Regions from separate parts of the Homo sapiens genome. Here region 1 is linked to region 2. Evidence: fine-mapped expression QTL. A gene starts in region 2. The other region holds a variant in brackets. All regions are shown on one strand. Distances are between the middles of the regions. Region 1 overlaps LOC105370173 (a long non-coding RNA gene). Region 2 holds the start of MTRF1 (mitochondrial translation release factor 1).

Evidence for each region. PIP is the estimated chance that this variant, and not a neighbour inherited with it, causes the effect.
Region 1: its variant is the best candidate, but not a certain one, in a credible set for the expression of MTRF1 in cerebellar hemisphere (GTEx, PIP 0.86).

The regions. Positions count from the first base shown.
Region 1 is chr13:41,299,701-41,304,098 of GRCh38, reverse strand. It overlaps LOC105370173 (a long non-coding RNA gene), which reads right to left. Exons shown (of 3, transcript XR_001749846.2): 3 at 48-586. It also overlaps a transcript of MTRF1 not described here. Among named protein-coding and RNA genes, the nearest start is that of NAA16, 9.4 kb to the left of the region's middle. The variant T/ATCT (reference allele first, on the strand shown) is at 1,693.
Region 2 is chr13:41,261,375-41,265,772 of GRCh38, reverse strand. It overlaps MTRF1 (mitochondrial translation release factor 1), which reads left to right and starts at 2,197. Exons shown (of 10, transcript NM_004294.4): 1 at 2,197-2,288. RefSeq lists a silencer at 1,902-1,991 and an enhancer at 2,279-2,779.

The sequences.
Region 1 (4,398 bases), 38 kb before region 2:
AGGGTTCTTGGATCTCACCGAAGAAAGAATTTGGGGCAAGTCCACAGTGCAAAGCAAAAGCAAATTTATTAAGGAAGTAAAGTGGTGAAGGAATAGCTACTCTATAGACAGAGTAGGGCGTTCCTGAAAGTAAGAGGAGGAACGCGCCTACCCCTAGGTACAATGCTTATTTATATATAGGATAACAAAAAAATGGGGAGATTTGCTCTACTACAAAGGTTTGTGATTTAAACAATTAGTTTTCTTAATTACTATATTTTGCAAGGATCGATATTTATCTTTAAAGCAAAATTAGGAGTGCTTTTGTTTTTAAGACATCAGGATATCAGGACATTCCTGAGTCTGGGTCTGTTAGTAAACGTTATTAATCTGTTCCGTTAACCTAGAGGCTAGGAATACTTACCCTCCTGGGAATGCAGCCCAGCAAGTCCCAGCCTCAGTTTTCTTAGCCCTCACTCAAGATGGAGTAGCTCTGGTTCAAATGGCTCTGACACTTGCATCGCCAAGACCCTGCAGAATTCTGGGTTTTCTCCTGTACCTCTTCTTGGTCATCCTTTGGGTCCTCAATCAAGTCTTCATTCTTCTCCTAAATGTAGATTATCTAGATAATTCTGTTTTCTTTTTAAACAACAACAATAAAACATGTTCATTGAACACCTGCTATGTGCAAGACCAGCACGTACAGAATACACTAGCAATACAAAATTAATAAATTCTCTTGCTCCCATAGCATCATTATTAACACCAAGTAGATTATTTCAAATCTCTCTCCAGTTTCAAGTCCCCTTTGGATCTCCTGGCCTTCATTCTCATTGTTTAATATCTCCATCTGGATGTCTTATAAGCATTTCCTACTTTAACAGTTGAAATAAAATGTATTATCTTCCATCAAAGTAGTCCAAAAAAATAGAGAAAACTACTTATCTGTTTTTGTTATTGACACCACTCTTGCAGTTAGCATCAAATATATATACATATAAAATAAAAATAAATCAAAAATAAATAAATAAATAAATAAGAAAGGCTCTTTCTGGAATTTCTTATCTGGAATGTATGTATTCCAGCCTCTTGAGTAGCTAGAATGTATGTATTCCAGCCTCTTGAGTAGCTGGAATTACAGGTTCCACCTACTCAAGGTGCTCTCTTGAATAGCTGGAATTACAGTTTCCGACTACTCAGGTGCCACCACACCCAGCTTGCCTCAAAATTTTATAATCAACTTTGACTGCTCTTTCTTATTCTCAAGTTGCCAAGTGCTTTAGATTCTAGATCTAGGCCAGGCGCAGTGGCTCACGCCTGTAATCCCAAAACTTTGGAGGCCAAAGCAGGAGGAACACTTGAGCCCAGGAGTTTGAGACCAGCATGGGCAACATAAGGAGGCCCCATCTCTACAAAAAGTAGTTTAGCCAGGCGTGGTGGTGCACACCTGTGGTCTCAGCTACTTGGGAGGCTGAAGTGGGAGGATCACTTGAGCCCAGGAGGTCAAGGTTGCAGTGAGCCATGATTGTGTCACTGCACTCCAGCCTGGGTGACAAAGCAAGACCCCATCTCAAAAAAAAAAATTTAAAAAAAAATCCAGATCTAGTGTGTTTCTCCCTTTTCTTCCCTGTATTGGGGCACAGAAATGATTCCCCAAATATAGCCACGCTGAGTGCTTTTGAAAATCCTCAAAAATAAGCCTGAGAACAAAGG[T/ATCT]CTCTCTCTCTCTGCCACTTCTCCCACCTTCCTGTCTCTCTGATCCTGTTTCCAGAAGCACCCTAAGAAAGATTCTTGGCCAGGCACGGTGGCTCGCACCTGTAATCCCAGCACTTTGGAAGGCCGAGGCGGGTGGCTCACCTGAGATCAGGAGTTCGAGACCAGCCTGGCTAATATGGTGAAACCCTGTCTCTACTAAAAATACCAAAATTAGCCAGACATGGTGGTGGTGGGTACCTGTAATCCCAGCTACTCGGGAGTCTGAGGCAGGAGAATCGCTTGAACCCAGGAGAGGGAGATTGCAATGAGCCAAGATCGTGCCACTGCACTCCAGCCTAGGCAACAGAGGGAGACTCCATCTCAAAAATAAATAAATAAATAAATAAGAAAGACTCCTTCTGGAATTTCTTATCTGAAGAAGAAAGTTTAAATACAATTGTCTTAAGACTCCCTCCCTAGGAATCTCATCAAATAGCCAGGAAAGATCAACCACCAGAGAAGAGAAGAGACTGGGAGTCATCCCCACACCCAGACAGACTTTTCATCTGTTCATCTGAGAGCAGCACTGAGAGATTTTATCTACATAAAATCTTTATCTACATAATAAGACAGACTTTGTTTCTGTGCAGCTCTGGTCCTTGCCTTTCTTTTTTTTTTTTGAGACGGAGTCTCACTCTGTTGCCCAGGCTGGAGTGCAGTGGTGAGATCTGGGCTCACTGCAACCTCCACCTCCTGGGTTCAAGTGATTCTCTTGCCTCAGCCTCCCAAGTAGCTGGGATTATAGATGCCCACCACCACATCCGGCTAATTCTTGCATTTTTAGTAGAGTCAGGGTTTTACCCTGTTGGCCAGGTGGATCTCAAACTCCTGACTTCAGGTGATCCGTCCACCTCAGCCTCCCGAAGTGCTGACATTACAGGTATGAGCCACCGCACCCAACCTGTCCTTTGCCTTTCTATATCATCTGCCTCCCACCTCCCAAGTCAATACATCTCTCCCCTCTGAAAACAGGTACATAAGCTTCTGTATAATAGTGCGTTGTTGGGTCACCATTCTGCGATTCCCCCAGGCTAGCCACGTGAAAATAAAATTGTGTATGCCTTTTCTCCTATTAATCTGCCTTTTGTCAGTTTTCAGAGAACCTTCAAAGGGTGAAGGGAAAAGTTTCCTATCCCCTGGTGAATGCAGAGTTAATTCCACTACCTGCGCTTAGGAGGGATACATCTTTGCCTTCTTAGGGAACTTTACTCCTCTCTCCTATCTCTCCTTTCTCTTCTCAATTACTGTAATCATTTCATCATAACTGTTATTGAACACTTACTCTGTACTAGACACTATATGCAATTTGCTATTTCTTATTTAATCTTTATGAAAACCCTATGAGAAAAATACTATTATCCATGAGAAAAAGAGAAATAGCTCAGAGCAATCTGATCTACGTGAGGTATGCAAAATATATCAGGCCCAGAGAGACATGAATATGGAGCTTCAGTCATGCCCCCTGCACCCAGGCAATTGTTTAAAGGCATTTTGTTCTTGACTAGCTGCCTCGCCCATTATCTTCATGTTCCTGAAATTTGTGATACAAAGAACAATGTGTAGCCAATCAATAACTTATGTCATTTTAATGTAAAATCTTGGTAAACAATTTAGGAATTGCCTCTTTTTTATTTTTTTGCTTTAAAAACCACTGGTAAGGCCAGGTGCAGTGGCTCATGCCTACAATCCCAACACTCAGGGAAGCTGAGGCAGGAGGATTGCTTGAGGCCAGGAGTTCAGGCCCAGCAAGACCCTGTCTCTAATTTTTTTTTTTTTTTTTTTGAGACGGAGTCTTGCTGTGTCGCCCAGGCTGGAGTGCAGTGGCCGGATCTCAGCTCACTGCAAGCTCCGCCTCCTGGGTTTAGGCCATTCTCCTGCCTCAGCCTCCCGAGTAGCTGGGACTACAGGCGCCCACCACCATGCCTGGCTAATTTTTTGTATTTTTAGTAGAGACGGGGTTTCACCATGTTGGCCAGGATGGTCTCGATTTCCTGACCTTGTGATCCGCCCGCCTCGGCCTCCCAAAGTGCTGGGATTACTAGCGTGAGCCACGGCTCCCAGCCTCTAATTATTTTTTAGAAATGTTTAAACCACTTGTAATTACAGCAAACAGAAGTGTGTATTCAGGGAAACTCAAATCTATGCTTTTGGGTGGCCATCTTCAATCTTTGAGCTCAAATAAACTCTATGCTTAATCATATTTTCTGCATCTCATTCTTAAGGTTGACATTTTGGTGACCCAAACGGGACCTAAAGCAGACCTCCAGTGATCACTGTCACTTCACTGACAACTAGAGAACTGGTGCCAGTAGTTTATCCAACCTTGCTGGAGTCAACAACGATCTCTGGAAAGGCTCCTCTCAAGTCTGAATCTTTCTGGCTTTCTTGAGGATTGAGACATTATTTGAGCTACACACATTCCTAAATTGAAAGGGCTGAAATTGAAACTCTACTGTTCGGTAGGAGTTTCATTTGTTATTCTTTAGTGATTTTTCTGACCACAGATTTGTAAGTTTCACTTTTTCTCTGATATTAAGGTCTTATTTGAATTATGCCTTAGAGCTTTTCAAACATTTCTCTCATTCAGAAGTTTGGTCAGGGAGATATCAGTTTATCACTGAAAAAAAAAAAAAGTCTTTAAAACTGGCCAGATTGTGAAGCTCAGTT
Region 2 (4,398 bases):
CATCAAGGTGGCAGCAATGTAGGTTTCAGTCTGATACCTCTTCTCTTGGCTTGTAGGTGGCCACCATCTCACAGTGTACTCACGTAACCTCTTCTTTGTTTGGGCAGGGACAGTGAGCAAGATCTCTGGTGCCTTTTTAGAAAGGCACTAATCCTATTATGTCAGGGCTCTACTCTTACGACCTCATCTGACCTTAATCACCTTAAAGGCCCTATCTCCAATACAGACACATGTATTGGAGGGGTTAGGGCTTCAATATATGAATTTTAAAAATAAATATTAGTAATATGCACATGATTATGAATATAAACAATTCAGTCCATAGCAGTAAGACTACTTTTTTTTTTTTTTGAGACGGAGTTTCACTCTTGTTGCCCAGGCTGGAGTGCAATGGTGCAATCTTGGCTCACTGCCACCTCTGTCTCCTGGGTTCAAGCGATTCTCCTGCCTCAGCCTCCGAGTAGCTAGGATTACAAGCATGAGCCACCACGCCCAGCTAATTTTGTATTTTTAGTAGAGATGGGGTTTCTCCATGTTGGTCAGGCTGGTTTCGAACTCCTGACCTCAGGTGATCCACCTGGCTCGGCCTCCCAAAGTGCTAGGATTACAGGCGTGAACCACCACGCCCGACTAAGACTAATTTTTTAAGGAGAATAAAGCTTTATATATAATACTCAAGTTATATAGCTGAAAGCACAAATCAGAATAAATAATTAAAGAACTTTTTGGATAACTTAGGAGAATGACTTTATGTAGACCCTTTGAAACTTTTCCCCTACTGGAACATAAGCTCCATGTGGGCAAAGGTTTTTGTCTTTTCTGTTCATTGCTAAATCCTCATGACTAGAATAGTGAATAGCACATAACTGGTGTTCACTATTTATTGAATACATGATTGAAGGTTTTTTCTTTTTTGGAGCAGGGTGGCCCTATATCAGAGCTTAGGAGCCACAGATCATTAAAGCCATTGCCTTAATTGAGTCTTGGCTCTATCACTTACTGTTTTTTACCTTGGAGTAGTTACTTTAGCTCTGTGTGCCTTAATTTTCTCCTCTGCAAAATAAGTATTTTAAGGTTGTAAAAATTAAATGAATTAATAGGGTAAAACCATTTAGAACAGTATTTAGTACATAGTACATAGAAGTAGGTACCTTGAAGTTGGCTATAAACGTTAGATATTATTTTGCATATATAGCTAATTCTCCTATCTATGTATGTGATTATAATCTAAGAAAATACTCTGTAAAGTCAGTAATATGGTACATTTTTTGCCTTTTCTTTCAGGAAGAAAAATTGAGGCATGGAGATAGAAAGACTGTAAATTGCGATAGCCAAGGGCTGGATCCCACTGGATTAGTCAAAGTAGGACAATATGCTTGCATTTTCCTGCAATTGTTTATTAACTGGAGTTTTCATTCTTCACTTAATCAGTGGTTCATAAGCTATGAATCTAGGTTGAGCCCCTACATTCCCATGTGCAAAGAACATTATAAAATCACTAACATGTGGAAATACACGGTCTCCTAACTTTTGGGGCTGTTACTACTTTTAAAATATAAATTTATTTGTATTATCCTTTAGTCATTAGGTATTTTCTGAAGCAATGGAAGCTGAAAGTATAGAAATTACACGCAGAATCTTCTACATTTGTGGATGATGTAAAAGGAGTCTTTATTTTTTTTAAATATTGGAAAACAGTGCTTTACGGGCTTCTAATACATAAGGAAATTATTGTAATTTCACATGCAATGTGTTCTAAATCTTGATCTCTTAATCAGAATCGTAAAGAATCTCTCTTCTAGGTTTGCAGTTAACGGTGAAAACCAAAAACTCCACATTTGGCTGGATAGTGAGTGGAGGGGGTTGGAGGCTGCCGCAAGGTAAACTACAACTCCCAGGATTCTTTGGTGGGCGCTCTGGGAGTTGTAGTTTAGTCCCACCTTGGCCCCTCCCTCCCTCCCTCCCTCCCACCATCTCCATCCCCGCTCTGGGCTCACGCTCTGGATAAGGACGGCGCGGGGGCGGTTGTCTGATGACAATTTCATTCTCGTTTTGTCATTTTTCTCATTTAGCTCATTTTTGTCATTTTAGTCCATTGTTAGGCATGCTCGAGGACAACTCCTCCGGAGAGCGGTAGTGGCGGAGGAGGGGCCGGGAGCGTGCGTTAACCCGGAAGAAGTGAACCAGGAAGTGAACGTGATCTCGGGTTTGTCGGGCTGAAATGTGGCGGGTCTCGGAAGGTTCCGACCTCAGTAAAGAGAGCTAACGTGTATTCTTCTTTTTCTTAGGTACTCACAGTTCTTTCCTGATCTTCCCCGCCGCCTCCTGTATTGCCTCTTTATGGAATCACTCCATATACTGAGTTACACAGCATGGTTTGCCCGTGCTGCTGCCCCGCGGGCTGTCGCTTCTGACCTGCCTACACTCAGAACTTTCCCCAAAGCATCAGAGTAATACTGTTACTGTGATGGGTAATGGAGAAGTCGTGCTGTTCTCAGGTGTAGTTAACCTTGGAGAGTAAACATCTTGTTTTGTTTTGTTTTCCTTAATGTTGAGATTCATGACCTTGAAAATTATGCATTCTACTACTGTTCCTAAAATGGAAATTTTAGCAATAAGTATTCGTACAAACATATATTTGTCATCCTTTTATTCTGTCTGTTAGCAAATGGATACACTTTCTCTAACGTGCTTGAAATACGGGGGTGGTGGAGTGTAACGTTTGTGACAGCTGGCCATTGGTGCTTTCTTCAACAGTTCTTTTAATAATGTGATGCAGTATCCTAAAATCTATCAGTAGAACTCTGGAAACTGAATATTTTAAAGACCATTCTGACTATTTTATTTCCTAGGTGATAATGCTAAGTTAACAGACTTATAGTGAACAAATGAGCTAATATATCAATGCACCTCCTAGCATAGTAGGATCACTGGAGACAGTAAAGTTTGATTTTGATAAATGTTGATCCTTCTTTTTTTGAGTTGAGTCTCACTGTGTTGCCCAGGCTGGCCTTGAACTCCTTGGCTCAAGTGATCCTCCTGCCTCAGTCTCCTGGGTAGCTGGGACAATAGGTGCATGCTACTGTGCGTGGCTTGACCCTTATTTCAACTTTGAACCTTAGAGTTTTCTTAGAACACTTTATATTCTCCCTTTCTTACTCAGTAAGACCATTGTGTACTTTTGTTAGCTCTTGATTATCTCTGTTGGAGGGGAGGAGAACAGAAAATTATTGTACACAGCCAATTTCACCTAACCTGTAATTTTTTAAACTAATCTTTTTTTATGATTAGGAAAGTATTCCATGCTACATGTGCAAGAAACTTGGAAAACACTGAAAAGTAGAAAAAATAGCAAGCAAAAGGTATTCATAATCTCACAACTAGAGATCATTTTATTAACATTTTGGTATGTTTCTTTTTTTTTTTTTTTTTTTGAGACAGCGTGTTGCTTTGTCGCCCACGCTGGTTGCAGTGGTGCGATCTCAGTTCACTGCAACCTTCGCCTCCCAGGTTCAAGCGATTATCCTGCCTCAGCTTCCCGAGCAGCTAGGACTACAGGTGTGTGCCATCACGCTCAGCTAATTTTTTTGGTATTTTTAGTAGAGATGGGGTTTTCCCATGTTGGCCAGGCTGGTCTCGAACTCCTGACCTCAGATGATCTGCCCGCCTCGGCCTCCCAAAGTGGTAGGATTACAGGCGTGAGCCACTGTGCTCGGCACATTTTGGTATGTTTCTTATTTAACTTTCTTTTTAAAAAATACTCTATGTGCTTTTTTTTTTTTACATGTATACCTTATATTGTAGAATATTTTTTAAATGTAATTGAGATTCTATTTTGTTCCTTGCCTTTCTTGCTTAATATAATTGTCACCATTTAATATAACTGTAGAGCTTTTCACCAGCCCTACTTTCTTGGTCTATTAATACTTGAACTTTTCTTCCTTTAGGATCTCAGCTAAACGGGAAGCATTTTTGAAAAGTGATTGCACAATTGAGAGTGAAAATTACTGAGTCCTGAACAGGCAACTTACATTCTAATACCAGCTCTGTCTCCATCCAGCCGACTGAATAGTCGTGATTAAGTTACTTGACTTCCTTGGATATCTAGATCCTTAAAGTTAAAGAATTATACAAGATAATAATATTTTCTTCAAACTTTAGAAAATGACTTTATGAACCGCCTTAAGTTTGTATGTTTTCATAGCTTTCAAGAGCTTGTTTACACACTCAATTCTAGATTCTAGATACTTTCTAGAAAATAACTGACTTAACTCATTCAATTGATATATTTGTTAGTTGTACTCCTACTCATATGCTTCAGTTAATTATATATGTTGAACAGGTAGGAAGCAGTGCTGTTTTTATTTATTTTAATATGTTATTCATACATTTGAAGAA